Linked DNA regions of Homo sapiens: region 1 is linked to region 2. The links come from fine-mapping of genetic effects on gene expression. A gene starts in region 2. The other region holds a variant in brackets. All regions are shown on one strand. Distances are between the middles of the regions. Region 1 overlaps LOC105371501 (a long non-coding RNA gene). Region 2 holds the start of KIF1C (kinesin family member 1C).

Region 1 (3,004 bases), 52 kb after region 2:
ACTGCAACCTCGGCCTCCTGGGTTCAAGCAATTCTCCTGCCTCAGCCTCCCAAGTAACTGGGATTACAGGCGCACACCACCACACCTGCTAATGTTTGTATTTTTAGTAGAGACGGGGTTTTACCATGTTGGCCAGGATGGTCTTGAACTCCTGACCTCAGGTGATCCACCTGCCTCCGCCTCCCAAAGTGCTCGGATTACAGGCGTGAGCCACCATGCCCGGCCACATTTTCTAACCATTTCAATCTGCATCCAAATTCTTTGGTTTAAAGGGTTTTTTTTTGTTTTGTTTTTTGTTTTGTTTTGTTTTTAAATGGAGTCTTGCTCTTGTCATCCAGGCTGGAGTGCAATGGTGCGATTTCGGCTCACTGCAACCTCCGCCTCCTGGGGTCAAGCGATTCTCCTGCTTCAGCCTCCCGAGTAGCTGGGATTACAGGCGCCCACCACCATGCCCAGCTAATTTTTGTATTTTTAGTAGAGACGGGGTTTCACCATGTTGGTCAGGCTGGTCTTGAACTCCTGACCTCAGGTGATCCACCTGCCTCGGCCTCCCAAAGTGCTGGGATTACAGGCGTGAGCCACCGTGCCTGGCTGGTTTAAATGTTTTTAATTCCACAGGGTGAGGTGGATTTTCTTAGGATGAAAGAGACTGAGGTGCTGAAGTGGGAGGTGGAGAAATAACACAAATAGTGGAGTGAAAGCTGGGCTACAACCCAGTGGAGGGAAAACAAACATGTTCCACATGGATTTCCACCAGGCATGGTGGCTCATGCTGTAATCCAAGAACTTTGGGAGGCCGGGGAGGGAGGATTGCTTTGAGCCCAGGAGTTCGAGGCCAGCCTGGGCAACATGGCAAAACCCCATCTCTACAGAAAAAAAATGCCAGGAGCGGTGGCTCACACCTGTAATCCCAGCACTTTGGGAGGCCGACGTGGGCAGATCACGAGGTCAGGAGACCAAGACCATCCTGACCAACATGGTGAAACCCTGTCTCTACTAAAAATACAAAAATTAGTTGGGTGTGGTGGTGGGCGCCTGTAATCCCAGCTACTCGGGATGCTGAGCCAGGAGAATGGCTTGAACCCAGGAGGCGGAGGTTACAGTGAGCTAAGATCATGCCACTGCACTCCAGACTGGTGACAGAGGAAGACTCTGTCTCAAAAAAAAAAAAAAAAAAAATTAGCCAGGTGTGGTGGTGTGTACCTATAGTCCCAGCTACTCAGGAGGCTGAAGCAGGAGAATCGCTTGAGCCCAGAGGTGGAGGTTGCGGTGAGCTGAGTTCACACCACAGCACCCCAGCCTGGAGCCTAGGAGTTTGAGGCCTCAGTGAGCCCAGATCGCACCACTGCACTCCAGTCTGAGCAACATCCTGTCAAAAAAAAAAAAAAGAAAAGAAAAAAGAAGTAAACATGTTTCTTTGATTTCAATTGTCTATTAACCACAATGAAAGCCTGAAGCTCAAAGCAGCTATTCTTTTGCCTGTTTTTGCTCCCCTACACCACTAATAATTTCTGTTATAGAAACTTTGACTATTTTAAGGCTCCCGGTT[A/G]TAGCTGTGCTTCTTTTCACAGAGCCTACATCTGGCACCAGACAGAGGCCTGCAGGGAAAGTGAGCCTTCTCAAGCCCTGCATTCTTTCAAAGAGGGGACAAACTACAGACACTCATTTTGGGTGTCTTCCCAGGCACGGGTGCTGAAATTATCCTCTGTTCTGGTGTGGGGCAAGGGTGGGATTGGAGGAAGCTGCCTGGGCAAGCGAGGTCCTCCTCACGCTGTTGCTTGTCACCTTTCAAGGGCATTTATTTTGCTTCTGGTCTGATAAACAAATAATAAGATTTTCCGTGGAGGACTGGACAATCAGAGGAACTTCAAGAGGAGGGGCATATTCCTGCCTTTGGGACACGAGGAAGGAAAGGAGAAAGGAAAAGATAGACTTAGAAAGCTTCACTGCAGGCCAGATGCGGTGGCTCAAACCTGTAATTCCAGCACTTTGGGAGGCCGAGGCAGGTGGATCACCTGAAGTCAGGAGTTCGAGACCAGTGAAAACCCGTCTCTACTAAAAATACAAAAATTAGCCGGGTGTGGTGGCAGGCATCTGTAATCCCAGCTATTCAGGAGGCTGAGGCATGGAATCACTTGAACCTGGGAGGCGGAGGTTGCACTGAGCCGAGATCTTGCCATTGCACTCCAGCCTGGGCGACAAGAGCAAAACATCGTCTCAAAAAAAAACAAAAAAACAAAAACAAAAACAAAAAAAACCACAGCTTCGCTGTGCATCCTTGAGCTGCTTTTCTATTTCAGTTGAATGCATATTGCAGTTTATCATGATCACATGCAAGCGCTGCCCTACAGCTGGGCGGTGAGTTCAGAGCGATTACCATGGAGACTGAGAGAAGATTGCGTATCATCCCCCCAAACAGCATTCCAGCGTGGGAACGCCAAATCCAGATGTGAAGAACACAAACAAACAGTATGCAAAAGTTCAGAAGTTAGACTGTTTTTGAGATTGTGCCATTGGACTACTGAAAAGAGACATAAAGATGCAATTCCAACATATTGTATGATCCTGTTTATATGAAATATATAGAATAGACAAACCTCTAGAAATAGTCTCACCTGTCCAGGCTCAGCTCAGAGTGCCACTCCAGTAAGCACAGACAAGTTAATAAGTCAAAAGATACAGGTTAATCCCAGGCATAGTAGTTCGTGCCTGTAATCCCAGCACTTTGGGACGCTAAGGGGGCGTGGATCACCTGAGGTCAGGAGTTCGAGACCAGCCTGACCAACATGGCGAAACCCTGTCTCTACTAAAAATACAAAATTAGCCGGGCATGGTGGCACATGCCTGTAATCCCAGCTACTCGGGAGGCTGAGGCAGGAGAATTGCTTGAACCCGGGAGGCGGAGATTGTGGTGAGCCGAGATCATGTCATTGCATTCCAGACTGGACGACAAGAGGAAAACTCCGTATCAAAAAAAAAAAAAAGGAAAGAAAGAAAATAAAAG
Region 2 (2,500 bases):
GAGGTTGCCGTGAGCCGAGGTCAGCCTGGGCAACAGAGCAAGACTCCGTCTCAAAAAAAAAAAAAAAAAAAAAAAAAGAATACTAGATAAGTTAGGAGAGAGTGCACATAGGCTCCCGAAGGACAGAAGCAGCCAGCTGGAACTGTAGAGGTGAACTAGTATTTATCCAAGGGAACTAGGGATGGGCTGGGAAAGCAGGTGAGGTCAAAAGCGGAGAGAAGTATACCGTGCGGAAGCGGCAGATGGGGCTAGTTGGAGTTGGGCTGAAAGGGCCTAAAGTGGGGTCTAAAGGGGATGTCCTGACTCGGAGGGGGGTCAGCAGAACGCGAGGGAGCAGCGGGAGCTGCGGGGCATTCGGGCCTCAGATAGTTGGGTCCAAGCGGGTGACCTAGATCCAAGGGCAGGATGGAGCTGAAGGAAGCCAGGAAGGATCCTCCACAGTTGACTTCGGGGTAGCCACGGCCTGCGCCTGCGAGGGTGGATGAGGACCCGAGGGTCCGGCTGGGGCTGAGGGGCTGCCTGGAGCCCCGCTGGAGGGAAGCGCCGGGCCGGAGGGCGCGGCCTGCGCCTGAAAGGGCGACGGGGACCCTCGACAGGTGGACCGGGCGTGGCCGGACCTTCCGGGCAGCCCCGCCCGAGGGCACGACTGGGGGCTGCTTCCCTCGAGAGGGGCCCTGAGGTGGTGGGCCCAGGCTGAAGGGCAGGCTGGGGCCTGAGGGACGCCCCGGGTCTGAGAGGGCAGCTCCGGCCTTAGGCGGCACCCGGGCCTGAAGGGGTTGTTTGGGCCTCAGGCGGCGTCCAGGGCGGCCGAACTTGAGGGCCAGGCGGGGACAGAGCGCCCGAGTAGCCGCGCCACGGCCGGCCGCATTTGGCCCCAGCACCTGAAGCAGCTGCGCGGCGAATTCTAGAACTCGGCGGGGCGGGGAGGAGAGAGACGGCGATTCGAGCCGCGGGAGGAGCCGGCGGGCGGTGCTCGTCTGAGGGCGGGGCCTGAGCGGAGCCACCTTCTGGGCGGGCCTCGGCAGGAGGCTCCGCCCCCTGGACGCGCCTCCAACGGCGGCGACGGGAACTGGGCCGGGGCCTGGGTGCCCCCGCGGGTCAGCCCCCGACGTTTCCCTGTTCTTCAGGCGTCTGCAACCCTCCTGGGTTGCGGCGTCTGCTCGCCCTTCTGCGTCCGCAGCTCGGTCCCCACGTTCCCGCTCGCTGGGCCCCACAGGCCAGGAGCGTTGCCCCTTTAACAAGAGTAGCCCGGGTCGCTCCCGGCTCCTTCCCGGGACCGCGCGTACCCGCCCCTCCGCGCGCGCTCGCGCGTCCCCCGCCCCTCGCTCCCGCCCCAGCTCGCGCTGCCCGGGCGGGCGCCGGCCGCTGGCGCCGCTACTGCTGCCGCCCCCGGGGCGCGAGTCCGCCGCCCGCCGCCCGGGCACCCGGCGAGGGGCGGGGGCAGCTCCGAACCGGCCCCAGATCCTTCCCGCTTCCGCCTCACGCTTCCCGGAAAGCTTGTCCCTCTCCGCCGAGCTGCTCCGGGAGCCCCGCCGCGCCGAGGTGAGGGCTGGGGAAGGGGGAGGGAAGGGACGCCCGCGGAGGAATGTGCCGGGTTGGGGGGCGGGGAGCCGGGGTCCGGCGGCGCGATCTAGGCTCAAGAGTCGGGATCATGTGCTGTTTGTTCCGCGGAGGCGCAGAGAGGTGCCAGGCCCGGGCGGCCGCCGGCTGGCTGGACAGGAGGACGGGTCCGCATGGCCGCCCTGAGAGGCCGGGCGGGGACCTGTGTGAGAACCGCCGGGTGGGCAAGGTGCAGGTGGCCCAAGACCCCCTTTCGGGCCGGTCGGCCCCACCCCAGCCGCCCAGTATCCTCCTTGTACCCCACGGCTCCTTCACAGCTGCACCGGCCGACCCCTGTCCCTACCTCTATTCCCTTACCCCGCTGGCCCCCAGCCGTGCCACCCCATCCCTGTCCCATTAGCTGCAGCAACGGCGTCACCATCGCTTGTCCCCACCAGTGTCCTTCCCTCCCCTGGTCAGGGTCTAGGGGGTCAGGGCTGTTCTTCCTGAGCCAGCTTCTGTGATTCCAGCTACTCCCTTCCTGTCCTGGGACAGACCAGCCCCTCACCCTCCCATGCTCTGCCCAGGAAGACTGGTGAGGGGAGGCCCAGCGTGACAGGAGTTTGGGGTCCACTGGGGCCACAGGAGGGGGCTCCGCATCCCTTATCCTTCGTGGTCCTCCTCCCTGTTGTCCGTGGGCGTGGGCTGCTCAGCCTCTCCTCCCAGGGTGTGGGCACCCGATCACCCACATTCCTGGGCTCCAGCCTGGCACCTTCCCCAGGGCAGTGGACGCCATAGCACTAGCCCCAGGTTGGGGCTGGCACCAGCCAGCCGGCTTCCTTTTCTTTCTCCCTTTTAGGGAGGCCCCAGGGACCCTCTACCCTCAAACACAGGTATTTCTGGGCGCCCCAAGGGTGGAGCCCTGAGGGTTGGTCTGATGGCTACAGGATGACCCCACCCT

Evidence for each region. PIP is the estimated chance that this variant, and not a neighbour inherited with it, causes the effect. A credible set is the group of variants that fine-mapping cannot tell apart.
Region 1: its variant is the best candidate, but not a certain one, in a credible set for the expression of KIF1C in esophagus mucosa (GTEx, PIP 0.51).

What each region holds. Positions count from the first base shown.
Region 1 is chr17:5,048,090-5,051,093 of GRCh38, forward strand. All of the region lies in intron 3 of LOC105371501 (a long non-coding RNA gene), which reads left to right. Among named protein-coding and RNA genes, the nearest start is that of SLC52A1, 14 kb to the left of the region's middle. The variant A/G (reference allele first, on the strand shown) is at 1,550.
Region 2 is chr17:4,996,615-4,999,114 of GRCh38, forward strand. KIF1C (kinesin family member 1C) reads left to right here and starts at 1,336. Exons shown (of 23, transcript NM_006612.6): 1 at 1,336-1,542. It overlaps INCA1 (inhibitor of CDK, cyclin A1 interacting protein 1), which reads right to left and starts at 908. Exons shown (of 7, transcript NM_001394789.1): 1 at 882-908. RefSeq lists silencers at 649-738, 779-1,648, 1,699-1,798.